4 linked regions of the Homo sapiens genome follow. The protein of the gene in region 4 interacts with the protein of the main gene of each other region in a biochemical or structural test. Each region holds a gene or a part of one and is shown on either strand. Other genes may lie near its edges.

Region 1 (8,106 bases), on a different chromosome or scaffold from region 4:
GTCCCTTGTTTATCAGCTGCATCTCCCTCTGCCCACCAAGCCCTGAGGATTTATCCTATCCCCTACTGCTGGTTTAGAAGCTCATTAAACCCTTGCTCCTTCACACTTTTTTTTTTTTTTTAAGTACTCAAATTGCCTGGTACTAGGGAATTCTAGTGGTTATAAAGATGCTTACCAAATGGTTTTTGCCATTAAGGAATTTATCTTGTTGAGGAGGCAAGATGTTTCCTGCACACGATATAATCAGAGAATAGTTTTCAGTCAATATAGTAAATTAGAGAACAATTTCAAGTTGGCATATTAAATGGGTAGGTAATTCTTAAGGACAGAAGGGCCCAGAAGTTCTTTTGGAAGGTGCTGGACATATAGGTTAATGATCACCTGGAAAGCTTCCACATTGGAGGGGGCTGATGAGGAAATACAGCATAAGCTCAGGCAAGGAGAGAGGAGGAGCAGAGGAGCAGTGTATAAACTGAAGTGGTAAAGACTCAGAATGAGAGACAAGATGGCCAGAGTAGAGGGAAAAGAAGCATGCTAGATGTTGTGAGTGCCAGCACTGGGAATTACATCTGAGTTTAGGTATTTGGGGGCTCAGAAGTTCTCAGTTTACATCCTTTTGGGAATCATGGCGTTAGTCCATGAAGGAGGCTTGGACTGTTAGGCCATAGTATTTCCAGAACAACCCAATTGGTGGCTTAAAGCCGACAGTCCTGAAGTGTGCAGTATTTGAGCAGATAACTGCTCAAATTCTTTACTGCCAACAGCTTGAAGTAAAACAGGAGATTTTCCACCTGCTCCCTCACCCCTGTTGTTTCCAGATGCTCATACTAGCTGGTCTGCTCTGCTTGTTGCTGGATTGTGTTCCTTTTTTTCTTTTCCCTGCAGAGAAACCTTCCATTTTGTTTTGGCTTTGCAGGGTTTGGAGATAGCCCAAGGAGAAAAGGACCTGAAGCAACAGCTGGCCCAGGCTCTGCAGGAGGTAACTTTGCCATAGTACTAAGATTATAGTGGGCTGTGGAGTGGGGAGCAAACAGGCATCACATGACCACTGGCTGCCTCTGCTGCTTAGCCCATACCTCTGTGGCATCCCCAGTCTGTAAACAGAGCAGGTGGCAGCTGCTCACACCATCAGATCAGAGATTTGGAGCCTTACAAACATGCCAGACCTCAGCATGAAAACTTACATCTTTGTCTGAGCAGAAGTTGCTCTGGTGAAGATGGAATGGAGCTTTAGCAGTTAAGAGGCTCTCTGGGGAAGTGGCTCCACTTCTAGAAAGGTGAGGGCAGCAGAGGGAAAATGTGAGGTATGACTTGGCCACCAGGGCCCGTGAAGGCCTCTGTTACCGCAATGTTCCTGAGCTGTAGCCAACCAGAAACAATTGGGGAATGTTCCAGTTAAGCATTTTAGGCCAGGTTGAGAATGTGCAGTTTAACAATCAACAACACATATCAATTTATTGAAAAGGTAAAGCTCAACAGGACTAAAATTCTCCTAAAAGATTGCCTGTAATTTATTTAATTTAACCTGACTACTCTCATTTGATTATTTTTTTGTGTGCTCTTTTGCATCTTTAAAACCTACTATGTCTTCTACCTTTTATGTATTATGATTAGTAGTTTAGTGCCATTTAGTCAGGATGGTTCAAATCTCATTGGAAAGAGTGAGCAAATCACATAGGAATTTGTTCAGGGGAATTTATCCTTTTATCGTAAACCTACTTCCCAACCTTAACAGTGCTAACAGTCATACAGTATTGTAAGCATGACAGGGTGCCTGCCTTGATCTCCTTGAGGGTTGCACAAACAGCTTTGGAAAGAATTAGATGAAAATTAATTCAATCTTTTTAGAATTTTATTTTTTGAGCTTGTTTATTTTCTAGGGTGGGAGAGTAGGCATGTTTCCCATTTGGAACATTATTAAGTTAATATTCAGACATTGTTTTGAAATTGAAAAAGAATGTGGTTCTGCTAGTTGGAAATCCCTGAGGGATCACTGAGTACCCTGCACCCTCTCCTGAGACAGGAAAACACTCTATCATTTTGCATGGGATACTTGGCCATGCATTTATTAGCTTAAAATGTGATACTTTTAGACCGGGCACGGTGGCTCACGCCTGTAATCCCGGCACTTTGGGAGGCCCAGGCAGGCGGATCACCAGAGGTAGGGAGTTCAAGACCAGCCTGACCAACATGGAGAAACCCTGTCTCTACTAAAAATACAAAATTAGCCGGGCGTGGTGGCGCATGCCTGTAATCCCAGCTATTCAGGAGGCTGAGGCAGGAGAATCGCTTGAACCCGGGATGTGGAGGTTGTAGTGAGCTGAGATCGTGCCATTGCTCTCCAGCCTGGGCAACAAGACTCCGTCTCAAAAAAAAGTGATACTTTTAGGTCATGGTTCTATACCATCATGCCTGGGGGACATGCCACTCTCATGCAGTGGTGGTTTTTTGTTCCACCATGCTGATACTTTTGAAAGCTGTTCTTTACCAGACCATTATAAAAACTGTTTTTATAATGGTCTTTTATAACTGATTTCCTGTTTAAATCACATAATACCTTCCTCTCCAATCTCCAAGAAACTACCACATCTTTTTAAACCGAGTGATTCATAAGTTCTCAGGGAATTTGACTATAGTTAGAAATGGGTCCAGACCTTCACTGCCCTAAGCAGTCTGCCAGTCTTTGCTTTGAGTGGAAAAGAAAATAAAAAGATGTGTTTATATACAGCTCAAAAAACTTCTCTGAATGCTTTTCATACCTGTTATTTTCTTATGAACACTGAGGGAGGAGGGGGCACCTATTTTCCCATTTCCTTTTATTTTTATTTTGAGACAGTGTCTCGTTCTGTCACCCAGGCTGGAGTGCAGTGGTGCAATCTCAGCTCACTGCAGCCTCCGCCTCCTGGGCTCAAGTGATCCTCCCACTTCAGCCTCCTGAGTAGCTGGAACCATAGGCGCGCGCCACAATGCCCGACAATTTTTTTGTATTTTTGGTAGAGATGAGGTTTCACCATGTTGCCGAGGCTGGTCTCAAACTCCTGAGCTCAAGCCATCCACCCGGCTCAGCCTCCCAAAGTGCTGGGATTACAGGTATTATGAGCTACCACGCCCGGCCATATTTTCCCATTTTATAGATGAGAAAGTTAAAATACACATATCTAATTAGTGTGTCAAGTTGAAGACCCAGGCCTTTTGACATAACTGCTTTTTTTTGTCAGGAGATCACACATTTTAAAATTTGGTTCTTGAATAATATCTTTTCAAAAATACTTACCTTTACTCCACCTTCTTTTAAAAAGAATTTGAGGTGAGATTCTAAAGTATAAGCTATACTTAAGCATGAGAGAACTCATAAATTATGTTTCATATATGTGGAACCTCTTGACATTCAGCATAGGCATTTAGTCACAATGAATGAGCTGTTAGCTCCTGGGTGTGCCTTCTTCCAGAAAACACTGGCAGGGTTCAGGCAGCATTGTCTGAGCATGTAATATGTGATTTGTAGAACAAATAGGTTAAAAATCTTTTTTATTTCAATAAAAATGACTATCTAATTCTGCTGATTCCCATTTCCTCCTGATTATTTCATAAAAGCTGCTTCCAGTTCTGAATAGCTTTTAATTACTTACTAGTTCTTAAATACTGTTCCCAGAATCACTTGGGTGGCTTTAAAAAAAAAGAAAAAAAGAAAAGCACATTTCTGGGCTCCAAGCCAAACCTATAGAAGCAGACTCTGGGACACAGTGAAAGTTCTTCAGTTGACTTGGATGGCCACCAATGTTGGGTTAGTTTTAGAGGCCCTAGTCCATTTGGTGGCCGCCTTCCCTAACTGCCCTCTCCCCTGAAAAAAGCAGCAGGTAGGTAAGATAGCCCAATGGAATAAAGGTATTATTTTGAAATTGCCAATTTATCGATCCCTGAACCACAAAGTCACTAACTAGAGGGAGAGAACAGGCATGTTTGTGGCTAAAAGGAAGGATGCATTGTAGTTCATCCTGAGTATGTATCTGCTATGTTTTTGCAGCATTGGGCTCTAATGGAAGAGCTAAATCGCAGCAAGAAGGACTTTGAAGCAATCATTCAAGCCAAGAACAAAGAATTAGAGCAGACCAAGGTACTGGAAAGAAGATGGAAGTTTAGAATTTGGTTAGTGCATGCAACTCAGCATTTTCAACAGTGCAAGGGTTGCTAGGGAAAATAAAGAGAGAAATTATGGCTGCTCCTTGCCTCTGGGGAGATAATCTATAAAATTATAGAGGCCTATAGCAGGTTCTGCCTGTCAGACAACATCTATTTCCTTCCCTTGTTCAGAAGCAAAATGCTGGGAATAAGGCACTTGCATCCTGTATTCTAGTCCTTTGTCTATGGTGGGTACTCCTTCAGAGTGTGTCACTGATACAGACTGAGGAATATTGTAGTCAAGAAATAGTTCCTCCTGAACTATGTAATTTGAATTACATAAAGTAAAGTGAATTACTTAATGCAGTTTCTTCCCATGTCAAATCAGGAGAACTCTTGAATTAGGGGTTATAAACTTAAATGCCCACCAGGGCCAGACTGGTAATCAAAGTGAGTGAAGTGGCCTGAATGTAAGAACACAGTAGGGAGCTGTGCGGGCTATGGCTTATTGGATGGGGTACTTGCCCACACCCCCATCCCAGGAGGCAACTCTTCTCTGCTCAGCCAATTGTTGCCATCCAGAAGTGCAGGCCCAGTGTTGTCAGATCTTCTGATTTTTCCACAGCAGATGAAAGTCCAAATGTTTAAGTGAAATATCCCAAATTTTAAATATTGGCAACAACTTCAGCTTTTTGTGTGTGTTTTAATATGAAGGCCAAACTAAACAAGTCTGCAGGGTGGATCCAGTCCACAGGCCACCAATTTGCAACCTCTGACTTGAAATTAATACCTGAGTCTGACTGCATCTGTCATCCCACCCCCTCCATGTACCAACCTAGAACTGAAGGAGGGACTTGTTTTAGCTGGTTTGATTTCCTGTTTAAATCACATAATACCTTCCTCTCCAACCTCCAAGAAACTGCCACATCTTTTTAAACCCAGTGATTCATAAGTTCTCAGGGAATTTGACTATGGTTAGAAATGGGTCCAGACCTTCTTCACTGCCCTAAGCAGTCTGCCAGTCTTTGCTTTGAGTGGAAAAGAAAATAAAACAATTAAAAATGAGCCAGCCACTCAAATATACCTCAAATGGCCTATCCTCTCCCCCTCAGGGGCTCTTAATGCTTTTTGTTTTGGGGGTGAAGTGCTAAAATAAATGTCTGCTTCAAGAGAGCATACGTAGGAGCCTCCTTAAAAAGTGTGTCCACACGCAGTCTGACCTCTTGGGGAAAGCCGGGGAGATGGTACTGCAGGCCTCTGCAGGAGTGGGAAGTGGCAGGTATCATAGAGCATGGAGCCTGAAGGTAATTCAAGAGGCCTGTCTCCAGCCTTCTGCCTCCAGAGGTGTACCTTACTTTACAGAAAAGGCAGCTGCAAAGAACACAGCAACTTTATAACTAATTCAAGTTTCCTGCCTCTGGACTATTCATGCCTCTTTTCTTGTCCAGTGAGTTTTTAATTGTTTGGGATAATCTTATGTAATGTCTGAACTACAGCTTGCTATAAACTACTTAATGTCCCATCTGGTCTTGGGTGGTTGGTGTGGTTAGTATGTCACCTGCATTTTTCTCATTTGATTAATTTTGGGGAAGGAGACAGAATTTGCAATGCAAATACTGAAAAAGTGGTGTTTTAGTCCATTCAGGCTACTACAAAAAAGACCCATAAACTGCGTAGCTTAAAAACAACAGAAATTTATTTCTCACAGTACTGGAGGTTGGGAAATCCAAGATCAAGATGCTGGCATGTTTGGTGTCTGGTGAGGGCTGTCTTCTGATTCGTAGATGGAGTCTTGCCATGTCTGTCCCTATATGGCGGAAGGGGCAAATGAGCTCTCCTTGGGCCCCTTTAAGGCCACTAACCCCATTTATGAGCATGGAGCCCTCATGACCTAGTCACCTCCCAAAGGCCCCACCTCTTAATACCATCACGTTTGAAAATAAGTTTCAACATGGGAATTTGGGAGGAAGCACAAACATTCAGACCATAGCAAGTAGGGAGAGGAAAGAAAGGAGGTTAGTGCTCTGTATTAGAAAACAATTATTGAAAAACAATAAGCCTTAGGGAAAGTGTTCTATTCTTAATGTTGCTGCACCAGAATGAATCACTCATTAAGACTGAATCCTCTTCTAAATAATTGACCCTGCTCCCTGTCCCATTTTGCATTTTTGTTGGTTCTCTGAATGACAGGTAGGATTGTGTGTCTTGCAGGAAGAGAAGGAGAAGATGCAAGCACAGAAGGAAGAAGTTCTTAGCCACATGAATGATGTGCTAGAGAATGAGCTCCAATGTATTATTTGTTCAGAATACTTCATTGAGGTAATTATGAACAGTTGCTCACCCCTTCTTTTTTTTTTTTTTTTTTTTTTTTTTTTGAGACAGAGTCTCACTCTGTCAACCCAGGCTAGAGTGCAGTGCCACAATCTCGGCTCACTGCAACCTCCACTTCCTGGGCTCAAGCAGTTCTTGTGCCTCAGCCTCCCAAGTAGCTGGGTCCCTTACAGGCACATGCCACCATGCCTGTCTAAGCTTTTGTATTTTTAGTAGACATGGGGTTTTGCCATGTTGGCTAGGCTAGTCTCGAACTCCTGACCTCAGGTGATCTGCCCACCTCAGCCTCCCAAAGTGCTGGGATTACAGGTGTGAGTCACCACACCCAGCCGACCCCTTCTTATTCTCCCAACCCTGAATGAAGCCTGGGCTACACAGGCTGCTTCTACTATAGGGGAACATTCTGAAGAGATTTTCTTCCAGGAACTTATAACTATTTGATTTCAAAGTCACCTCTAGAGATGACCACCTCTTATTTGTTTTTATAATCTTCTTTCCCTTCACTGTCCTTTTTTGGCATTTCATCTGTTCTTAAATGTTTATTTGGTATGATTAACATTTTGAGCTGCAATGAAGCCTTTATCTCTTTGTTGTTGAGGAGAAAACAGGGCCAAATTAGATTTTGGAAGTATCAGAATAAAGCTGCTCAATAAAAGCTATTCTTTCTTTACTCTGAATGGGCACTATGCCGAGAATATGCTTATAGTGCAACCTTTTAAACGAGGGGGTAAACGTCATTAAAATGTGGTCACTTTGGGAATTTACGGCCCAAGTTGAATATATTTCAGGGACTCTGAGGCTCCTTATGGAAATGAAACCTCTACCATTTGTTAGCCTATCATATTTTTGCACTGGCTTATTTATTTATTTGACAAATTCTGCTGTTTGTGACCAGTTCACCTTAGACCACAGATGTTAAATTCAAGTTGCTAAATGACAGTGCTATTCAGACTCCTTTAAAAAGAAGGCCAGGTGCAGTGGCTCACACCTGTAATCCCAGCACTTTGGAAGGCCAAGGCAAGAGGATCACCTGAGGTTAGGAGCTCGAGACCAGACTGGCCAACATGGTGAAACACCATCTCTACTAAAACTACAAAAATTAGCCAGACATGGTGGTGTGTGCATGTAGTCCCAGCTAGTCGGAAGGCTGAGGCAGGAGAATCACTTCAATTTGGGAGGCGGAGGCTACAGTGAGTCGAGATCACGCAACTGCACTTCAGCCTGGGTGACAGAGCAAGGCATGAAAAAAAAGAAAAAGAGAAAGAAAAATGTAGGCCGGGTGCAATGGCTCATGCCTATAATCCGAGCACTTTGGGAGGCCAAGGTGGGCGGATCACCTGAGGTCAAGAGTTCAAGATCAGCCTGGTCAACGTGGCAAAACCCCATCTTTACTAAAAATACAAAAATTAGCCAAGCATGGTGGCATGCACCTGTAATCCCAGCTACTCGGGAGGCTGAGGCAGGAGAATTGCTTGAACCCAGGAGGCAGAGCTTGCAGTGAGCTGATATCGCACCACTGCACTCCAGCATGGGTGACAGAGCGAGACTCCGTCTCAAAAAAAAAAAAAAAAAAAAAAAGAAAAACATATACACACAGCTTTCTTTTCTCAGGTGATCTTTAGGGAAGTTGGGTCTGTTAGCCTCTTGAAAAATCTC
Region 2 (8,066 bases), on a different chromosome or scaffold from region 4:
AGATACACACAGTTGCTTTCATAATCCCCTAATTTTATACTTACTTTAAGGACCTCTGTTGTAGGACTAATCCTATTTCTGTTGTGTTGGTAATGTGGTATACCGGCTAAGCTGCCTAATTGTTTTTAAAGACTAACGTTACTTTTTTTTTTTTAAACTAGGTTCCAATATCATTTGTGGATCGTGTTTATGGTGAATCCAAGTTGGGAGGAAATGAAATAGTATCTTTCTTGAAAGGATTATTGACTCTTTTTGCTACTACATAAAAGAAAGATACTCATTTATAGTTACGTTCATTTCAGGTTAAACATGAAAGAAGCCTGGTTACTGATTTGTATAAAATGTACTCTTAAAGTATAAAATATAAGGTAAGGTAAATTTCATGCATCTTTTTATGAAGACCACCTATTTTATATTTCAAATTAAATAATTTTAAAGTTGCTGGCCTAATGAGCAATGTTCTCAATTTTCGTTTTCATTTTGCTGTATTGAGACCTATAAATAAATGTATATTTTTTTTTGCATAAAGTATTGCTGCCTTCATTAGAGTATGTGAATGTAGAATTTTTTACATGGGGAATAATTTGAAATAGTCTTTTTAAAAACTGGAATCATAGATCTTTATACCTAATTGATCTCAGAAGTAAGATAATGTTAACTGATGAAATGTTTATGGCTGTGTCTGTATGAATTGAAAAAGAAATACACACCTCTGCCCTTTCCTTAAAAATGTATCTCAAATTTCTTAAACTAGAAAATACATTTAGAGCAGGCATTTACAGTTCGGTTCTTTTCAGCTGTTGAATTGATGAAACATTTCATCTATCAAAGCAGGTCTATTTAAAATGCATATTGTGAATTGGGAAACAATTTGACAGCAGTTGATTACATAGCCGTTTTTTTCTCTTTTGAGCAATAACCTCTATCAGTAAGGAAAAATATTAATGACACTGAGGCAGAAACTTAGCTGCTACAGTAATTTTTAAACATCTTACTGAATTATATAACAATTTTTTTCTCAAAAGACTTGTTTTCATATTATTTAAAGACCCTCAGCAAAGCTCACATCCCTACTAATTTGAAAAATCTCTGCCTTAAGCTCTTCTCTCCATTTAGAAAAGTGTTCTGCCAGTTAAAATTTGGGCTAAGCTATCCAATAAAGCCAGGGCAAATATTATGTTTACCCACTTTCTCTAAAGTAGGTATTTCAGAAGAGATCAGTTAATTTCTAACTGTAGCATAGGTTATGGTCATGTAGTATCTTTTAAAATTTGAGTAAGGGCATGCTTTGAGCAAGTAAGTTTAAGTTGACTTTCTTCTGGAAATAAAAGTAAGAGGTGTCTCTAAATTATTTATTGAACAGTATTCCTAATTACTACATTTTCCTGGCTTAACTTGGCTGCTGAAGAAATTGAGGCCCAGCACAATGGCCCATGTCTATAATCCCAGCACTTTGGGAGGCCAAGGCAAGAGGATGGCTTGAGCACAGGCATTTGAGACCAGCCTAGGGAACATAGGGAGATCCTGTCTCTACAAAAATATAAAAAAAGCTGGGTGTGGTGGCACTCACCTGTGGTCCCAGCTACTTGGGAGGCTGAGGTGGGAGGTTCACTTGAGTCTGGGAGGTCAAGGCTGCAGTGAGCTGTGATCATGCCTGGACAACAGAGTGAGACCCTGTCTTTTTTAAAAGAAAAAAAAATGAAAATCTGATTTTTCATTTGCATTTCTCTCTGACAGATTCTACCAGAAATGAATCCCAGACTATAAAACCTGTGGTGTCATTTCGAACATTAAAACCACCCCCTCCCACGCTTCTATAGTTGAACCCATAGTACACATTCCAATAAGGGCCACTCTTGTTCTGTTTCCCTTATGTCCAGAACTGTCCAGCTGGCCAGTGAGGGAACTGCTTTCCTTAGGGAAGAAACTTCTCTCATTCATAACAAGAAGAAAATTCATCAGTGCTTGATGTGAAATTAGTTTTAAGCTAAGATAATAGAAATGTAATATTCTCAGTTTTTTTGGAGTGGTTAGAATTTATTTTTTCTTAACCTAAACTCAAAGTTGAGTTCTCAGTGTCAAGTATGTGGAGCAGAAATTAAGTAACAACCTTAGAGAACCTAATATAGATAGTACTGCCTTCTCAGATACTCACTAGAGTAGATAATGTTTGCCTTTTAAATCTTTTTAGTTATTCACACAATCATTATCACAACACTGTCACTCTTGGAATTTACCATAGAGTATTTGAGCAGTGAAGACTCATAGCATTTGGAAGTCATTTAGAAAAGAATCTGGAATATTTAGATGCATTTTTGTAGTAAATCTGGTGCTTAAACACTGTAAAATTAAATATTTACATCTGAATCCAGCATCCCATTTTGCTTTGTAAATGAGGCCAAAGATGAAATCCAGATGTTTTCCCTTGTATTTGTATTATCACTATATGGAATCTAAGTATATCTAAGAAAAACTAAACTTAAACTTACTTTGCTTATTTCATATTAGTTTTTATCTGTCTTCTGCAGTGTGTAATTAGATTCTTTAGTTTTCTGAATCAAATGCTTTGCCCCAACCCCTTTTTCCACGACTTTTTTCAGCTGTTTTCCCTTGAAATACTGACTTGGCTTTTAAAGATACATTTTATCACAATTGCAGAAATGTGTTGTATAAAAGTTTGTTAAACAGGGCTAACTGAAGTCTTAGATGTTGAACAGCTATGTGTAACCACAATTTATACTACTTGCAGCGAACTCAGATTATTTTCGGATGTTAAGTATGGCTTGAAACTATGTTAACTTGAAATGTAAAGAAACAGCAAAAGACAGGTGTATTTACCTAAAGATCACATATTAAGGAAACAGGCTTGGTTAATTCCTCACTATTGACATCTATTACTTGTCAATACATTTAACCAACCAATGATACTTTAAATCATAATGTTACTTTGAACAACCTACTTTAAAAGGTTGGTTCAAAAATGTTGAGGAGATAATGTATTGGTTGGGATTGACCTAAATTTACAAAGCAACCATGTGCTGTCTTATGCTACCCAGATTGTGGGAGCACCAAAAGCTATGTCCCTAGGACTACAAAGTGTGTTGTTTAAGGATCTTGCAGAGAGCCAATGCCCCTATTGGCAACATCACTTCTCATCCTTAAGTTTCACCAGTTGGGTGGCCTCAAGGCACTAGGATTCCCATTTTTTTTTTTATTCAGGTCAGAGAAGAGTCCATCACTGTGACTGGGAAGAATGTCAAGTCACAGGGTAACGGCGGACCTTAATAAAATCTCGGCCCCTCTGCACCGAATACCCCACCAGGAAGGGCTAAGGCATCCATGGGGTTGTGTCTCATCTCAAGTCGCTGTGTGAAGCACGAGGCCCTCACACCTCATTTAAGGCAGGAGGCGTCAGGGGCGACCGGCCAGGTGTCCCGGCGCCTTCCCGCCGCTTCTCAGCCGTGGAAGCGCGGGCATCTGAGCACGTGGAGCCGCCCCAGGCCGCCCCGCACACCCCTCCCGCCAGATGTAGTCCAGGCCCAGCTGGGCCCGCGCAGGGATCCCCAGCACGGCCACCTGACTGAGTGCTGGGCGTGCTGCGGCCCGCTGCTTCTGCCTCCGCCGCCGGCGCTGCGGCCAGAGGAAGGCGCCCGCCGAGCACACGGGCCCCGGGAGCGCACTGCGGCCATTATCCGCGGCGCCTCCTAGTGGGTCAATGGCAAATCCGCCTGGTTCTCGCGAGAGCTCCCCCCTCAGTGGGGATTATATAATTTCCCTCAAGCGGGGGTGGGGGTGCTGAGAGCACCCTCCCTCAGGAAAAGTTAGGTGCAAGCAGGGGTGGGAGTAAGAGGAACCCCCCCTGGGGAAAAGGGGGTTAGGGGTGCTGTCCCCACTGCCCCCCCCTATTTAGCTGGACAATGAGTCCTCTTATGCTAATGAGGCACTTACGTCACTTCCGCTCTTTCTCGGCCGCCATTTTGGCTAGGGCAGGTTCGGGGACTCGGTCCGAGGCGCTTGTATTGTCTGCTGAGGGGAGACGCGGGATCAGCCCCCTCCCCCGCCCGTTGCCGCCGCCGCCTCCGCCGGCCCGGTCTCCCCTCCGCCGCCCGCCGGGATCCATGAGCTGAACTCCCGCCCCCCCCCCCCCGGCCGCCGCCATCTTGTGCCCCCTCCCCCTCCCGCAGGCAGCGCTAAGGGGGATTTTGGCGTCTTCTCAGACACAGCTCCCTCTCTCGGTCCCCGCTGCTGAGGAGCGAGAGGAGCGCGGCCGCCGCCGCCCGCGCCGGTGAAGCCGCCTCTCCCACACCCTCCGTCTCCTCCCTCCGCCCCTCCTTTGTCTGCACCGCTCGACGACGCCGCCGCCGCCCGCCGCTCTGCTGCGCCCGCCGCGCCCCCCGGCAGCACCCGCGGCCGCGGCGCGAGCCGGAGTCCGCCGAGCCGGAGCGCGACGAGGCCCCGGGCGCGCCCTCCCCGCTGCCGCCACCGCCGTGCCGCCGCCATCCGCCCGCCGCCGCCGCCGCTGTCCGGCCCCCGAGCACGCCGGCCCCGCGCGCGCCTCGAGGCCGAGTCAAGGTAAGCCCGGCGCCGCCGCGCGCGGACCCGCGGCCCTGCCCTGCCTGGCTTCCCGACCCCGGCCCGCGCGGCCGCCAGTGCAGCCTGGCCCCGGGCGCGGGCGCATTGTTGTTCGCATCGCCGCCCTCCAGCCGCACACACGCTCCTTTGCACACCCCGGCGCCGACGGGTCCCCCGTCCCGGCACGGACCGCTACCCGACTCTGCTCCGGAGGTCCAGGCGCCTCCTCCTGCAGCCCGACCCCCTTCTCCGCCCTGTGAGCCCACCGAGGCCAGCACTCTGCCTGGCCGCCCGGAGCTTTTGCAGCTAAGGGCATCTCCCCCAGCCAGAACCGAGCTTCTCCCATCCTGGAACTAATCCCGTCCGCCCCCCACCCCCAAAAGGAGCCCCCCCACGCACACCCCCATGCCTTGAACCAGCCTTCTGCCAGGTCTGCCCACCCTTACCTGGGGGAGGGGGGACGGGGTTGGGGGGGGCGGGGAGCATGCATGGCATGGAGTGAGTCTTTGCCTCCCCTGTGCAATCCTTCTTCCCCAACCTGCCAGCTTTCCTCTTATCCTGACCACAGTTCACCACCATCCCTTTTCCCCAATCTCAGCTGCCTGGTCAGCACCTCTTTCGAACATTCTGAGCCCCAACTTTGCAGTAAGGTGGTAGAAAATGGAAATCCAGAGAGCTGCAAAAAGATTTTTTTTTAATGTAATGAATGGGGAGTAGTTTTGTGAACACACTCGTATTCACCTCTTCTTTCCTCTGGGAGGCCTGCCTGCCTTCCCCTCCCCCCCAACCTTGATCCCTGTCTGCTGGAAAAGGCGCGATTGCTTCTCTTCCTCTTCTGCCCAAGACCAAGACTCTAGGTCTGATATCCTTTTTAGCCACACACACACACCCCCCACACACGAAGTCTTCTTAATCTTCTTGAATTTACCAGTTACTCTGGACACTTCTTGCCATAACCCCATTTCACAGACAAAGGCTTAGGAGGGAAAAAGAACCAAACTGTTTCTGTGTTTGTCATGTTAATGATGTCCATCCCCACACACCCAGTTCCCATCCCTGATGCTTCTTGTGCCTGTATCTTGAACCTTCAGAATGAAAAAAAAAAAAATCTCTTGGATAGCTTGATACAGTTTCTTTAGAAATCTGCATTGTTGCTTCTGGTTTATGGCCATGGAGAAAATACCAGCCCCCACCCAAAATGCACCGCAGCCAAGTCGGCTAAAGGCGATGAGTGTTGGAGTCAGTAGGGGGCGCATTCTCTGCACTGGGTAAGGCTGCAGAGGGGGGAAGGGCCCCCGAGCTAGAACAGGATGTGCTTCACAGCGCCTTCTACAGACCATGGGAAAATGGGCCCAGCAAGACACACTCGCACTCTTAGTTGGTGAGCTGACAGCAACATGGCGAAGGATTAAGTGAGTCAAGAGCAGTGATTTTACTTCTTTTAAAGAGCCCACCCTGCATTTTAGAAGTTTTCTCCTTTTACTTTTTCAAAACTGTTGGCCCCCAGTCCATATTTGTTCTTGACGAATCACCTTGGCACATCCTTGGTTCGGATTCCCTTCCTCTGGAGTTCTTCCACCTCAAGTTTTGAATGTGTCACCATATCTTTCCTAAGTCTGGTGGTAAAGGAGAAGGTTTGAAACAAAGTAACAGGTTTGGGGGCATAGCTGGTTAACTCCCTTCTTCATAGGCCAAATCTTTCCAATTCTTTGAGAGTTAAAAATCATTCTTGAGAGATGTTGGATTAAGTGTGTAGATGGGTGTCATGATTTGCAAAGCCTTGTTGGTAAACATCAAGCCCATGTTGGGTTCTTCATTGTCGAACTCAAGTGTTGATTGTAAAAATTTCGTTTCCCTCCAAATTTGGACTTGTAATTGCCATTCATTATCTCAGCAGCCAACCACCTTTACAAAAATGTTGATACCAGTCTTCTGTGAGCACCCACCTTCTTAGGGTGTGTTGATTTCCATAGATTTTACTCCTCTTGTTATTTCCATAGGTGTGAGATGCACAATGCGAAACCTAGGCCCCAGCTTTTACACCATGATGCGCAGGGTTGTACTTTTTGTACTGAACTGATAGGTGGCCTAGTGGTTATGCCCTGTACTACCATTTTGAGGATCTGGACTCCGTTTCCTGCCTTGCTCTTTGGACCACATTGTCAATTCACACCGGTGGGTATATTCATTTTGGAGGGTGGGAACTGCAGCAACAGGGAAGCCAGAGACTTCCTTCTCCTTGGTCACCACCAAAACCAACACTTCCAAAATTTCAGCCTAGCCACATTCCTCAAGGAACCGGTTAGAGCTGGTTGCAGTAGTGGGTTCTGAACACTTATTAACATAAGAAATTACTTACAGCTTTTTTAAGAGAAATTTTTACAGATGCTAATATTGTAATCATTTGCATTCTACACCCCTTTGTATAAAGTATAAGTATTCAGTTACTATTACTTTGATAACCCAATCTCTAGAGTTGCTAAGCTTCTAAAAGCCTTAAATGTCTGATGAAAACATGGTTTTCCATGAACTTGTTCTTGCTACCAAAGATTGACAGTGGTTGATGTTTGTGGGTACCTTTAAGACTTTGTATGTTACATAAATACACCAAGATAAGTTTATGGAGAACTGAATGGGTGTATTCTTTGATACCTAGTTAACCAGTTGGTGCTTAACAGGAGAATTTTTCATTGGAGAATTGCTACCAGGTAACATTTTGGTGAGTGAAAAGGAGGCCCTTTGGTACAGGTATTTGACTAGAGACATTGCTTCTACAATTTCTTAGTCATTGTGAAAAATCACATATTTAAATGGGATTATTTAAATTTTTAAATACTGTATAGTATTTGTAGGCAGGTATAGTTTTTATCTTTATTTGGTGTTTTATATGCAGTTATTTAAGTTCTGAAAATGACCATATAATTTGAAGACAACTTATTTGACGGAATGTTTGAAATGAAGTTTGTTGAGGGGCTTTTGTTTGATTTAGCGAATGGGATACAGTGTTGAATGATGTCCTAAGTGGTAACAGCCATTTTCCCTTAAAGGAAAACTTGCTGTGAGCTCTTAGAAAGCATGTATTCTACTGTTTCAAAGGTTTCTTGGTTTTAACACTCAAAAAATAAGGTGAGGCCAGGTGAGGTGGCTTACGCCTGTAATCCCAAAACTTTGGGAGGCTGAGGCAGGAGAATCACTTGAGGCCAGGAGTTCAAGACCAGCTTGGGCAACATAATGAGACCCTGTCTCTACCAAAAAAAAAAAAAAAGTGAAACAATTGGGCTTGAAGACTGGAATTTATAGTAGGTAAACTATATACTTCATTAAAGTATAGTAAAAGGTTCAATTAACTAGAGTGTGGGGAATGGGTATTCTGTTTAACTGAACTTTAAGTAGAAATTCCTTTTTTATCTTGGCCTTTGTTGAAAAATTTCCTGAGACTAGCTTATTAGGAGCTATATATTGAAACTAACCTCTTTGATTTTGGTTTTTATAGT
Region 3 (6,137 bases), on a different chromosome or scaffold from region 4:
CTTGCAAAATATAGTAACTAAGAAAATTAATCCTTTATCACAAACTTGTAGCAGAGCACATCTCCCCATATATACAAGTATTGTACCTAGGGTGGATGCCTTCCTCCTCTTACTTTCGGGAATGTCCTGCTCCGTCTATGGAGTAGTTGTCGTTTCACCACTTTACTTTCTTAGTAAACTTGCATTTACTTTGCACTGCGGACTCACCCTGAACTCTTTCTTGCGCGGGATCCAAGAACCCTCTCTTGGGGTCTGGATGGGGACCTCTTTCCTGTAACATATTTCTGGCCACCACAGAAGGGACTATAGTACAGAAACCCTGACCCAACAGCTACCTTTGGGTAAGTGTTGGAGTTCTGTAACAAAGGAAGAAGGCAGGCAGGCAAAAAATTTATGAAAGAACATACGACAAAATAATTTCTGCTTCAAAACTTCATATTTTTTTAATTTTTTTTTTTTTTTTTTTTTGAGACGGAGTCTCGCTCTGTCACCCAGGCTGGAGTGCCATGGCGCGATCTCGGCTCACTGCAAGCTCCGCCTCCCGCGTTCACGCCATTCTCCTGCCTCAGCCTCCCGAGTAGCTGGGACTACAGGCGCCCACCATCACGCCCAGCTAATTATTTTGTATTTTTAGTAGAGACGGGGTTTCATCGTGTTAAGCAGGATGGTCTCCATCTCCTGACCTCGTGATCCGCCCGCCTCGGCCTCCCAAATTGCCGGGATTAAAGGCAAGAGGCACCGCGCACGGCCCCGTCCAAGTTAACCTTGGCTCTAAAACTTGTCTTCGCTAACATTCCAGTTGATCCTCTAGAACTGAAACAGAATAGCAGCAGCACCACCTTAAGAAATTGTGGTTATAGCTCTCCTTGTGACAAAGTAGGTGGCTCTGAAAAGAGCCTTTGGGTTTGGAAGTGCTTACATAAGCACTTATTTAGAGCTAGTGTACTTGGTAACTGCCTTAGTGCCCTCGGACACAGCATGCTTAGCCAGCTCCCCAGGCAGCAGCAGGCGCACAGCCGTCTGAATCTCCCTGGAGGTGATGGTCGAGCGCTTATTGTAGTGAGCCAGGCGAGAAGCCTCGCCCGCGATGCGCTCGAAGATGTCGTTGACGAAGGAATTCATGATCCCCATGGCCTTGGATGAGATGCCGGTGTCGGGGTGGACCTGCTTCAGAACCTTGTACACATAGATAGAATAGCTCTCCTTGCGGCTGCGCTTACGCTTCTTACCATCCTTCTTCTGCGCCTTAGTGATAGCCTTCTTAGAACCCTTTTTAGGGGCTGGAGCAGACTTAGAGGGTTCAGGCATTGCTATTCCTAAACAGAATAGAAAAGCTACTAACACTCTCCACTACAGAGTAGTACAGAGAACAGTTCAGAGCCCATGTATTTATAGTCCTGAGATTCAAATGACGGTTTAAGATTCCTCACTTCTGATTGGACAAAAGAAACACGGTTTCACTGAGGGGTGGGGTTTATGCAAATATGGAATTTATGTTATCTTTTTCTATTGGATAAAGCACCAAACATAATTGACCAATAGGATAGCTTCCTATTGCAGCCTTGCAGTTTGTATAAAAGGATTTGTTCAGGCGCCATTCCAGCTTGCTTGTCTTTCACAGTTTTCCGCTGCTTTCATAGGTCGCTATTTGCGGACGTGGAAAATGGAGCTAAAGCAAAAACTTGTTCGTCGCTACCGGGCTTGCAGTTCCCAATAGGGCAGAGTCCGTCATCTTTTTCGAAAGGGCAATTATTTTGAGCCGGTCGGAGCCGGTGCGCCAGTGTACTTACAATACCTGGCCGCCGAGATCTTAGAACTGGTGGGCAGCGCCATACGTGACAAGACCCGCAGCATCATCCCCCGCCACCTGCAGCTGGCCATCCGAAACGACGAGGAGGTCAACAAGCAGCTGGGCAACGTCACTATTGCTCAGGGAGGCGTCCTGTCCAATATTCAGGCCGTCCTGTTGCCAAAATAACAGAGCCACGATAAGGCCAAGGTCAAGTAAACACTCAAATCAGAAAACGTAGCTTACACTTGAAACGGCATTTTTCAGAGCCGTCCATAGTTACACAAGAAAGGATGATAACTTGCTTCTGTTAGGGTATTTTTTGCTTTTCGTTTGGATTGGTTTGTTTTGAGACAGTCTAGTTCTGTCACCCAGGCTGGAGTGCAGCGGCGCGATATCGGCTTACTGCAACCTCCACCCCGCCGCTTCACGCGGTTCTCATGCCTCAGCCTCCTGTGTACTTGGGATTACAGGCGTCTGCTACCGCGCCCAGCTAGTTTTTGTATTTTTATGCGAGACGGGGTTTCACCATTTTAGCCAGGGTTGTCTTGAACTCCTGGCCTCTAGTGATCGTCCCATCTCGCCCTCCCAAAATGCTGGGATTACAGGCGTGAGCCACCGCCCCCCTAGCCTAATGGTGTTAAAAAGTTAAGTTTCGAGAAAATAACACCTTCCTTTAGAAAGTACATTTTAGAGTATACAAAGTGAAACTTAAGGCCAACCAAAATAAGACATTTTGAGAACAGGCAGGGTGGGAATGTGACTTGGACTTAGAAAACAAAGGGCAAGGAAACTTGCTGTTCGCCAGTAACAAAATAGCATGGAATCTCATTCTCTGAATATAAGCGTTATTTCCCGACATGAGTCTGAACGTTTCTGGTGGTTTAGTGAGTGTTCACCAGCATTGATAACTTGCGAGACTGTCAGGAATGCAGAATTTCAAGTCCCACTCAAACTTACTGAATCGGAATTTACATTTTAAAAATCCTTAGATACCTTGTTATACACTCTGTTCTTTGGGACTGGATGAACTAGAATTTTAGACAATTTGTCGCTGCAGATAACTGAAACGAAAAGGACAGGATGGGCGGTGGGGCAACTCATCCAATAAGATTGTCTAGTAATGAACCAATCAGTCTGGTCACTCTTCAGCCAATGATTTTATCGCGCGGGACTTTTGAAATATTACAGGACCAATCAGAATGTTTCTCACTATATTTAAAGGCCACTTGCTCTCAGTTCACTACACTTTTGTGTGTGCTCTCATTGCAAATGGCTCGTACGAAGCAAACAGCTCGCAAGTCTACCGGCGGCAAAGCTCCGCGCAAGCAGCTTGCTACTAAAGCAGCCCGTAAGAGCGCTCCGGCCACCGGTGGCGTGAAGAAACCTCATCGCTACCGCCCGGGCACCGTGGCCTTGCGCGAAATCCGTCGCTACCAGAAGTCCACCGAGCTGCTGATCCGGAAGCTGCCGTTCCAGCGCCTGGTGCGAGAAATCGCCCAGGACTTCAAAACCGACCTGCGTTTCCAGAGCTCTGCGGTGATGGCGCTGCAGGAGGCTTGTGAGGCCTACCTGGTGGGACTCTTCGAAGACACCAATCTGTGCGCTATTCACGCTAAACGCGTCACCATCATGCCCAAAGATATCCAGCTGGCACGTCGCATCCGTGGGGAAAGGGCATAAGTCTGCCCGTTTCTTCCTCATTGAAAAGGCTCTTTTCAGAGCCACTCACAATTTCACTTAAAAACAGTTGTAACCCATTCGGTTGTCTATGTTAGTTTCCAGGAGATATAAAGGTGATAACTACACACAAGTTTTGTAACTGCAGACAAGTCTATCAGGCCTTTTCAACCGGTTTTACTGCGAGAAAACAAGCTGAGTTACTGTTTTGCCCTTGTTAAAAAATTCCTAGGGGTCTTTTTAGCATGTATATGTGTAAATACTTACATATTGAAAGGCTCCTGGGGACACCACCGTCACTCCTTTTAATCCACGTGACAATTTTAGTTCTGATGGCAGTATTATTAAAGCTATCATAAAGACAATGTGTGTGTAGTTACCTAAGTCCACAAAAACAATAGCTGACCCCAAAATTCAGTATTGGTTTTGGGCTGCTGGAGGTGGAGTCAGAGCTCAGGTGGAAGAAACTGGCCTCAGTACACACTGCCAAAAGTCCACTAAATAGATTTATGTAACAAGTACACAAGACTTGCGTATGACCATCCAAAGATTATGCGGTCATCCTTATCCAGGGAATTTGAGAATGAAGGGTGGCAACTGCAAAGCTCTTTTACCCATGTCCTCTTTTAATAAATATTTAAAAATATTCAAATGCTGATTTCATCCATTTTCTAAATATATTAGTATACTTAACTGATGGGGTAGATCAAGGTTTTCTGGGGATCAAACCTTTTACAACTTGTTAACTATTAAAAACTATAATGTAAAATTAAAAATGCAAAAGTACTGCAGACTGTAAATATAAATTTATAATGGGAAAATAAAATCAAATTCCAATTTTATAAAAGCTGACAAAACAACAGCCATCACAAAATTCAGAAAATAGCATATTTTATTAACTTCTGAATATGACACTACCAAGTATATTTTCCTGTAGTTTTGACTGAATACTCTGATTCCATCTTCAGATCGAAATTATTTTGTAATGTTGTCTATAGGTAATGGAAATAGAATTCAATCTTTCCTCCAGGGTGGCTGATGATAATATGTTTTCTTCATAACTTAGAAGTATTTCAGTTTCAAAACACATTATTGGTAATGTCAAGTAAGTTTTTAGGATTGTTTTCAAATTTGGAAAATCCTCTGTTAAGCTCCTTTCACATGTAAGTTGTAAACTTTGTAAGAATTCTTTCCAGACTAGCTTCTGGCTCTATACGTTTCTACTCTCCACTAGACACTCACTCTCAGTGCTGGGAATGTGTTTTGAATACTTAGATGTCATAACATTTTATCTAGACCTGCATCTTGCCAGGAATTTAGGTGAGTTATTCCAGTGAGCAGTAGGAACATTCCTTGAAGCCATTCTTTTTTTTTTTTTTTTGAGACGGAGTCTCGCTGTGTCTCCCAGGTTGGAGTGCAGTGGCGCAATCTCGGCTCACTGCAAGCTCCGCCTCCCAGGTTCATGCCATTCTCCTGCCTCAGCCTCCCAAGTAGCTGGGACTACAGGCGCCCGCCAACACGCCCGGCTAATTTTTTGTATTTTTAGTAGAAACGGGGTTTCACCGTGTTAGCCAAGATGGTCTCGATCTCCTGACCTCGTGATCCGCCCGTCTCGGCCTCCCAAAGTGCTAGGATTACAGGCGTGAGCCACCGCGCCCGGCCTCCTTGAAGCCATTCTTACGTCAGATTGGCTGGCAACGAATGAAGTACACATGATCACATATGCAAATCACGTAACTTATTATCCCCATACTAGATACATCTTCAACTAAACTTTCTCTTACTCAAATTCCAAATATTTTCATCAGGATTCTAACATAATCAGACAATGGTGATTTTAATAAAAAGGAGGATTGAGTGAAAATAGCAGCCTGAACCATCCGTGATTAAAGTACCTTAATACTGCAAATTTTAAAATCAGAGAGAGAGAGAGAGACAAACTAACACATTTGTAGGGCCCCTCTCTGCACCTTGGAAGTACAGGCCCTTACACTTGTGTTTCATTAGCTTCAGGATAAATCTGCCCCAGATCACTGGCCAAATTTTACGTGGCCTTCTTCAGCATCCTACCACTCTATTCAAATACATCTCTGCAGGAGCACCCTGTGAGTTGAGAATTACTGGTCTGGGATGACCACTGTTTGCATGATGCTTTGGATGGTGGTGCTGTTCTCAGAAGAAATACCAGAAGGAGAAAGGTTAGTCAGGAGAATATAAAGTCAACCTTAAGCAATTTGAACACTTCAGTGGTTAAGTGAGTTCCCTGGGACAACTCTGCAAGCTGTTTTAACTTTATTTGTATTGAATATTACCTTCTTTTAGAGAGGCCAACGTGTAGAAGGAAATAACAATGAAACAAAGGATTCATTAATAGTATAAACTATAAACTAACTGTCATTGATAGTCTTCCACGGGCCAAGTACCACATGAAGTGGTTGGTCTGAATTATTGTGTAAAATTCTTACTTCAGCATTGTAAGGCAAATTATCTCACTGTCTCCATTTTACAGAAGTGGAGGTTCAGCCTCAGGAATTTCACTAAATTCGCCAAATTCTTACTACCAGCAGATATCATTGCCAGGCAGTGTCACACTTTAATATCTTCTAATCAATAAGATAACCCTAAAATTGATTATCATATATAATTTCCTTCTCATATATAGTTTCAT
Region 4 (8,106 bases):
CGGAGGTTGCAGTGAGCTTAGATCATACCACTGCACTCCAGGCTGGGCCACAGAGCAAGACTCTGTCTCAAAAAATATAATAAATAAATAAATAAATAGGCCGAGTGCGGCGGCTCACGCCTGTAATCCCAGCACTTTGGAAGGAGGAGGTGAGCGGATCACAAGGTCAGGCGATCAAGACCATCCTGGCTAACACAGTGAAATCCCGTCTCTACTAAAAATACAAAAAAAAAAAAATTAGCCAGGCATGGTGGCGATGGCCTGTAGTCCCAGCTACTCGGGAGGCTGAGGCAGGAAAATGGCGTGAACCCAGGAGGCAGAGCTTGCAGTGAGCCAAGATCACGCCACTGCACTCCAGCCTGGGTGACAAGTCTGTCTCAAAAAAAAACAATAATAATAAAATAAATAAATAAAGATAATAACATGAAGTGTCAGGCGCAGTAGCTCACGCCTGTAATCCTAACACTTTGGGAAGCTGAAGCAGACAGATTGCTTGAGCCCAGGAGTTTGGGACAGCTATGAGCAGTGATCACGACACTGCACTCAAGCCTGGGCAACACAGCTAAAATTTGTCTCAAAATAAATATATAAGGCTGAGCGTGGTGGCTCACGCCTGTTAATCCTAGCACTTAGGGAGGCCAAGGCAGGCAGATCACCTGAGGTCAGGAGTTCAAGACCAGCCTGGCCAGCAGAATGAAAACCCTGTCTCTACTAAAAATACAAAAAATTAGCTGGGCATGGTGGCTTGCGCCTGTAGTCCCAGCTTCTCAGGAGGCTGAGGCAGGATAATCACTTGAATCTGGGAGGCAGAGGTTGCAGTGAGCCGAGATCACGCCACTGCACTCCAGCCTGGGCACAGAGTGAGACTCTGTCTCAAAAACAAAAAACAAACAAAAAAAACCAGTGTCTTCCAAGTCTAAGTTACTGGTGACAGCCATTTTCCCAATCTCTTTAGCAGGACTCTCCCACGGAGACTGCCCGTCTCCCGTGTGCTCAGCTGGTACCTGTGGTTGAGGATTCGGTGGATCATCATCCACTCGGGTTTTATCCCATAGCGATAGAAGCGTTCCTCCATCTCTGCAAATTTAGGGTCCTTGTTCTTTCGCTTTCGGCTTTTCTCTTCATCACCACCAAAGTCCCCAGAAGGTGGCTCATCCATATCATTCTTCCGCTGATAGTTTCGGAACATCACCTGACAGTGCAGCTCCAGCTTTGAGCGGAAAGAGAAAATCAGCCACCAAGAAGCTGTGTTCATTCCTTCTATCCACAAGGCTCTTTTGTCACTATCCTCTTCATCGTAGCCCCTACATCTCCAGACTATCCTAAACTTACCTGCAGTTCAGAAACCCAGGAGCAGTGCCAGTAAGACATGCCTTGCCATTTCACAAAGAACTGCCGCTCTGGCCGCCCCTCCAAGGGCTTTGGGGAGGGCGTGTTGGGATCAGCATCTGGAGGCCGAGGCACTGGTGTGGGAGATGGTGGCTGACCCCACTTCCAGATTAGGATCTTCTGCACTTTGCCCTTCAGAGCTGGACACTGAGAGAAAAAGAGACAACTTAATCTCAAATCATAACCATGGGAGGAGAAGGGACAGCCCACAGTCTCAACTTCATCAAAGGACGATTCAGATCTCATTTCAGACCTGGAGCAGTGGCTCATGCCTGAAATCCCAGCACCTTGGGAGGCCGAGGCGGGCAGATCACGAGGTCAAGAGATCGAGACCATCCTAGCTAACATGGTGAAACCCCGTCTCTACTAAAAATACAAAAATTAGCTGGGCGTGGTGGCATGCGCCTGTAGTCCCAGCTACTTGGGAGTCTGAGGCAGGAGAATCACTTGAACCTGGGAGGCAGAGCTTGCAGTGAGCCAAGATTGCCCCACTGCACTCCAGCCTGGGGGACAGAGCAAGACTCCATCTCAAAAAAATAAAAAAAGATCTCATTTCAAATAAAATCTAATCCCAGGACTCCTCCAGGGAGAAAATACAGGTTGAGGACCCCTCATGTGAAATGCTTGGGACCAGAAGTATTTTGGATTTCACATTTTTGGATTAGGGTGCTCAACCTGTAATAGAATTCCCTCTCCATTTCTGGACATCGTCCAGGATTTGCGTGCCACCATCACTCCTATCTGCTTAACAGAGCCAGTAGTTAGACTTTAACAATAAGCCAGAACAATCAGGAAATCAACAGACTTAGAGCACAGAATTCCTCCCTTAAGCAATCTAAAGCAGTAAGTGGCCCTATTAAACATTCTAAACTGGCTGGCATGGTGGTAAACACCTGTAATGCCAGCACTTAATGAGGACAAGGGAGCAGAATGGTTTCAGACCAGGAATTCAAGACCAGCCTGGGCAACATAGTGAGACCCTGTCTCAACAGAGATTTTTTTTTTTTAATTAGCTGGATGTGGTGGCATGCACCAGTACTCCTAGCTACTCAGCAAGAGGTTGAGATAGGAGGATCACTTGAGCCCAAGAGTTGGAGGCTGCAATGAGCTATGACTGCACCACTGCACTCTAGCCCGGATGACAGAATGAGACCCTGTCTCCAAAAAAAAAAATTTTTTTAACAAAAAAATTGAAAACATTGTAAGCTACCAAGACCCTGAGGCAGGGTGTCAACACAGGGACAAATGTTCTCAGCTAGAAGAACATTGCTTCATCTCCTCTTAAGAGAGCTGGCAAAACATCAACTCCTCAGTTTGAAGTTAGTCCTATATTTTCCCAGGACAAAAGTATCCCAACACTATAGGATGAAGGAGAATACCTTTCTCAGGGCTGAAAAGCTCATAGTTCCTCTCCTGCACCCCAGCCTCACAATAGCCTACATAGAAAAGACTACACTTTCCCATTTTTTGCCCCGGCTGAGATCAGTCACTCACCGTACAACGGGGACAGAGCCATTCACCGTTGGGGATCTCTGGAAGTGGGGGATTCAGGCAGTGGATGTGGTAGGAAGAAGGACAGGTATCACAGCAGAGCAGTTCCCCACCATCCTTGCAGACCCGACAGAATTCCATATGGTGGTCATCCTCCTCTTCGAGGTCTCCCCCAACCTCTTCCAGGATCTCCTCACCCTCCGAATTGTCCTCTTTAGCTTCCCACTGGATGCCTTCCTTCTCCTGCAGTAAAGGACCACAGATTCAGATTATTACCCCCACCCGCCCACCGCAGTCTGAAGCCAGTGCCCATCATTCCTTTGAATGCTTCCCAAAGCTCACAACCCGCAGCACCAGCATTTCCATTTCCATCCAGGCCCCGAAGAGCTTTACTGTCCCACCCTTCTTCTCATGGGTTCCAAGGGGCCACAATGGCCAGACACTCACGCAGTGTGGGCAGCTCCACTTGCCCTCGGGAGCCTTCTCCATGTCGGGATCCAGGCAGACCATGTGGTAAGCACGGGGACAGGTATCACACAGGATGATCTCACCGCCTTGCTGGCACACCTCGCAATAGTCCTGGTGGTCTGTCTCATAACCATCCACAGCAGTCACCTCCTCCTCGCCTGGGCAAGGAAGAGGGAAAGCCCAGTTATTGGAAAAAAACTACCTCCCCCCACCCCCCGACCCCTATCTCCTTAGGGAGATTCTTCCCCAATCACTCCCACCTCATCCCATCACAAATATACAGAAGAGAAACACACCTTTCTTTTTCTTTTTAGTGGTTCGGAGTTTCTTGCGGCTGCGGCTACTACGGCTGGTGGAACCATCAGAAACAGAATAGCTATTGATACTGGCATCATCGAAGTCAGATTCCACATCTAAGTCATCATCCTCACTCTGGCAGGATGAAAAAGAATAAGGTTAGACGTTCAAGCCAAGGGGAAGGACAGAGTGGCAGAGAGGGGAGTACTCTCTCACTGGGGACACCAGAATCCCAGCAAGCACCGTTATACAGGGAGCCTAGTCTCATCTTGTTCTGTGGGAAACGCCCCACATTCTTACGTGCCTACTATGAAGGACAGGTTCTGATAGAAGGTCACATCCTTTCTATTAGACATGGCACCCTCCCTAAAGCGATGGGCTGGGCTCTCACCGAGGATCTCTTACGCTTGGAACCAAAACCTCCCAGCTTGATTTTCAGGGGAGCTACTTTCTTGGGTTTAGGCTTCTTGGCATCAGGTACACGAGGGCTGCCCTTGGGCTTCCTCCGAGCATTGGGACCTAAAATCAGGATATATCCAAATATATACCACAAGACCAAAGATGGGGAAAATAAAATCTTCTCCACCTAAGCTTGCTTCCCCACATTCAGATTCCCAAATTTCCCTCCAAAATCCAAGACTCATTCCTCCCTCCTATCTCCTACCTTAGGGCTGACAGACCAGCATTCCCATGCTGTCTTTGACATCTTAAGCCCACACTAGACACCCCCACTCCCATTTGAACCCCATTTCACCTTTGCCCTCCTTGGTCTTGGCCTTGCGGATAGGCACCTCCACAGGGGGAGGTGGTGGTGCAACCTCAGTGGCTGTCACCATGCTCTCCACCACAGCTACCGCTGCTGCTGCCGCAGCTGCCACTGATGCCCCAGAACTGCCTTTGAAGGGGTTATTGGTACTGAACTCCCGCCATTTTGCACCCAAAACCATCATCATCTTGGAGACAGCAATCTTGGGATTTTTGGCAGCAATGAGGGGTCTGGTGGAGAAATGCACAAGAGCAGAGGGAAAGGTTTAAGAATAAAAAAAGAAAGAGAAGTAAGAAGAGAGAACAGAAAGATTCTCCTCCCCCTTCCCCAAACCCCTTCTGTTTTACCTGACAAACTGGCTGAAGGCCTTGTAGTTGGTGAGGGTTCGATAATCCTCCTCTGAGAACACGTGGTCAATGTCTTCCATGCCCCAGTCTTCCAGGAGCTGAGCAGATGATTTAGGCTCCTGCAGAAAGAGCAAAGTCAAGTAAGTACCTGCCACCTAGTGCCCACACTTGCTAAGCAAATTTGTGTGGAAAAATCAGAGTAACAGAGTTAAGAGGAAAAGAAGAGAAAGTGTTCTAAAGGGCAGTAAGGTGTCTAGGAAACAAAAAGACAAAAGTTTAACAGTACAAAGAAGAGGATGGAGGTCCAGGCACCTTTGAATCATCATCATCATCCTCCTCCTCCTCCTCCTCCTTCCGCTTGGATTTGCTCTTCTTCTCTTTCTTAGGTCCAAGCTTCTTCTTCTTCTTCTTGCCAGGAGTATAGTCGCTGCCCTCACTGTCTGAGCGCAGAGCCACCTCTTCCTCCTCCTCCACAAACTCTGGCCCCTCCCCAGAGCTGTCCCCCAGCTGCCGGCATAAGAGCATACGCTGGAGCAGGGCAAGGGGGGAAGAGGGAGACAGACACACACATGCTACACACATGCTGACCTCAGGACAGCCCTGAGGCTCATCCCCAGAACATGGCCCACCACTTCTGAGAAAGAAACAAATGCCCTCAGCCCTTCAACCCTTCTCAGAGCTCCTCCCTTCTTCCTCTGATTCCCCGTAACATTCAGTCACCCACTCACCTCCTTTTTTTGGCGCTTGCTCTTAGGGATTTTAGGGTCCCGAGGTTTCTTAGGCTTTTTCTTCTTCTTGAGCTTTGGAGTCTCTGTTTCTGACAAATCCTCTTCTGGGTCCTCTTCATTTTCTACATATATTTGGCAAAGAGTGGTAGGCAGGGAAAAGATCAATAGCAAAAGGTTAGGCCCTAATCCAGAGGCTTTAGACTTTATTCCCCACCTCTTGTCCCAGATTCCTCTGAAGAGAACTGCTATACTCTGTACAGGAGGAAGCTGATACCCAGGACAAAAACAGACAAAGAGAGAGCTGTATATACCCGAAATAGGCCTGCCAGGCCAGACCAGGCCCACCTCGGGCAGCTGTCCAGACCCCTGCCTCCTCTCTCCCGTTCCTACCAGTCCTCTAGATGTTCACCAGTACAGCTGAACTGAGCTGCTCAGAGTTCACCAAGTAAGAGAACTAGATTTAGGCCTCCTGTAACTGGCCACCAAGTTATTCTATAAACCAGGGAATGAGAATGAAAGATCCTACTCAGAAGGCAAAAACTATAGAATATACCTTCCCAGAACAGGATCAGTTCAGGGGTCTCGGAAACCACACCCTTCTCTAACCACTTTGAAGTCATCACTGCTCAAATTAACCAGAACCTCCAAGTCCTAGGTTCAGGTGCCAGCTCAATCTCATGCCCACTTCTAAAATACAATTTCCTTTCCCCATCTCCAACCCTAATGTTCCTCCTCAGCTTCTCCTGGGTCAGCAGCCTCTTCTCCCTAGGGGCCCGAATCAGCCCAGCTGTCACCATCTCCCCTACACCCGCCCCCCAGCAAGCCTCCTCCCATCTGGCTCCACCTCCTCCCCTGGCTGGAGGCACACACAAAGCCTGGGTAAGACTGAAAGCTCCTGGGCAAGGATAGGTGGGAAGGGACACAGAGAAGACCAGGAGGCAGCTTCCTTTGTAACAGACATTCACACTGGCTCCGACTCCCTCCTCCCTCCTCTCTCCCTCTTCCCAAGCCACCCCCGCCCAAAGGGGGGTGGGTAGAGAAAGGAGTGGAGAGAAGAAGGGAGTGCCTCACCCACTGAGGAGAGGGAAAATGGCTCCTGACCGCAGAAGCCAGCCCAGGGCACCCAGCTGCCAACATAGGACAGACAGGAAGTGGCAGGGGAGGGGGTGGGTTTGAGAGAGGTGGGGTGGCGGGGGGGGAGACTGCCCTCATAGAAGCCTCCCCAAATTACCTGGCCCCAGGTCCAAATGCCACCTACTCTGGGATGACAACAGTTCACAAGAGCCCACCCTAACATCCTAAGCAAGGAAACCCAAGGAAAGCGAGACAAACATGAAGGTAATACTAAGAGAAGAACTCGATCACTCCCTCAATCATAATTATTTTTTCAATCATCAGAGCTGAGATTTAACAAAGGCTCAGTGGACTTGTGGTCAGCGCATACAACCTTCTCCCCAAATTTCTGATACCCAAAAGATTTAGTTTGAGGAATGGAGGCCCACAAGAAGTCTCTGAAGCTCAGCTTCCTCACCACTCCCACCCAGATTCCTATCCAACATATGGGAATGTCTGCACAAAAAAACAGAGCAGGACCTAGACAGTGGTAGAAGAGAATATCCCAATCGGGTGCAATGGCTCATGCCTGTAATCGCAGCACTCTGGGAGGCTGAGGCGGGCAGATCATTTGAGGTCAGTTCGAAACCAGCTTGGCCAACATGGTGAAACCCTGTCTCTACTAAAAAAACAAAAATTAGCCAGGCATGGTGGTGGGTGCCTGTAATCCCAGCTACTCAGGAGGCTGAGGCAGGAGAATCGCTTGAGCCCGGGAGGCGGAGGTTGCAGTGAGCCAAGATCGCACACTGCACTCCAACCTTGGCGACAGAGTGAGACCCCATCTCAAAAATAAAAAAGAAAATAATATCCCTCCTTCAATCCCTGACATGTTCTTAGCTCTTAACCCCCAAAATTAGCCCTAAAATGTCTCTGGCTCCCCACTTCCTGAGCTAGACAGATACTAGGGAATGAGACATTAGGCTGGACAAAGCACCATCAGCCTCCCTGCTTCTCAGCCCAGAATAAGACCAGGCACAAGAACGCCCCTCCCATTCCCCCTTGGGAATGCAACATCAGCCTGGATTTCACCAGAAAGAATCATTTTCTTAAGGACTTTTCCCCACCAATCCCCAAGTCAACCCCCAACCCCCATCAGCTACATCTCACCACCCCCATAAAAGCTGGAAGTGGAGACAAAGACAACCCATGGAGGCAAAGGGGACATCCTTCCATGCACATGGAGCCCCCCAAACTTCTCAGGCAAATAATATGCTGAAATGGCAAACCGCAAACTTACTGAGATATAGAGAAGATTTAGGAAAGGGACAGGAATGGGGTGTGGCAAGTGGAAAAAGTGGGTCATGCTACAGCTCAGGACAGAGTTCACAGCTCCTGCGCAGCTCCCGGTCAACATGAAAGGCAGCCCCAGCCCAAGTGGCCAATGGGAGGCCAAGACGTGGAACCCAGAATGTTTAGGCAGCACTACTGTTTCTCATGCCCCTCTCAGAAGGACAGGGTCCCCTTACCAGCACCACAACTCCGCCCTCACCTTGGGCAAGGGCATGGA

The links.
Region 1: the proteins of CHD4 (region 4) and RNF8 form a complex in vitro, tested with the Homo sapiens proteins (one study listed by BioGRID).
Region 2: the proteins of CHD4 (region 4) and ADNP form a complex in vitro, tested with the Homo sapiens proteins (2 studies listed by BioGRID).
Region 3: the proteins of CHD4 (region 4) and H2BC3 form a complex in vitro, tested with the Homo sapiens proteins (one study listed by BioGRID).

Annotation. Positions count from the first base shown.
Region 1 is NC_000006.12:37,370,596-37,378,701, forward strand, and holds part of RNF8 (E3 ubiquitin-protein ligase RNF8), read left to right. Parts: intron 1-916; coding exon 917-979; intron 980-4,024; coding exon 4,025-4,114; intron 4,115-6,330; coding exon 6,331-6,438; intron 6,439-8,106. UniProt on the Homo sapiens protein: E3 ubiquitin-protein ligase that plays a key role in DNA damage signaling via 2 distinct roles: by mediating the 'Lys-63'-linked ubiquitination of histones H2A and H2AX and promoting the recruitment of DNA repair proteins at double-strand breaks (DSBs) sites, and by catalyzing 'Lys-48'-linked ubiquitination to remove target proteins from DNA damage sites.
Region 2 is NC_000020.11:50,927,332-50,935,397, reverse strand, and holds the start of ADNP (activity-dependent neuroprotector homeobox protein), read left to right. Parts: upstream 1-3,960; 5' UTR 3,961-4,572; intron 4,573-5,060; exon of another isoform or gene 5,061-6,572; 5' UTR 6,573-6,579; coding exon of another isoform or gene 6,580-6,747; intron 6,748-8,066. Other genes in the region: DPM1 (dolichol-phosphate mannosyltransferase subunit 1), read left to right, coding at 162-266.
Region 3 is NC_000006.12:26,042,350-26,048,486, forward strand, and holds H2BC3 (histone H2B type 1-B), read right to left. Parts: upstream 1,365-6,137; 5' UTR 1,309-1,364; coding exon 928-1,308; 3' UTR 878-927; downstream 1-877. Other genes in the region: H3C3 (histone H3.1), read left to right, coding at 3,062-3,472. UniProt on the Homo sapiens protein: Core component of nucleosome. Nucleosomes wrap and compact DNA into chromatin, limiting DNA accessibility to the cellular machineries which require DNA as a template.
Region 4 is NC_000012.12:6,596,890-6,604,995, forward strand, and holds part of CHD4 (chromodomain-helicase-DNA-binding protein 4), read right to left. Parts: intron 5,609-8,106; coding exon 5,487-5,608; intron 5,287-5,486; coding exon 5,071-5,286; intron 4,878-5,070; coding exon 4,759-4,877; intron 4,642-4,758; coding exon 4,400-4,641; intron 4,165-4,399; coding exon 4,037-4,164; intron 3,781-4,036; coding exon 3,645-3,780; intron 3,507-3,644; coding exon 3,328-3,506; intron 3,124-3,327; coding exon 2,884-3,123; intron 1,537-2,883; coding exon 1,333-1,536; intron 1,211-1,332; coding exon 1,005-1,210; intron 1-1,004. UniProt on the Homo sapiens protein: ATP-dependent chromatin-remodeling factor that binds and distorts nucleosomal DNA. Acts as a component of the histone deacetylase NuRD complex which participates in the remodeling of chromatin.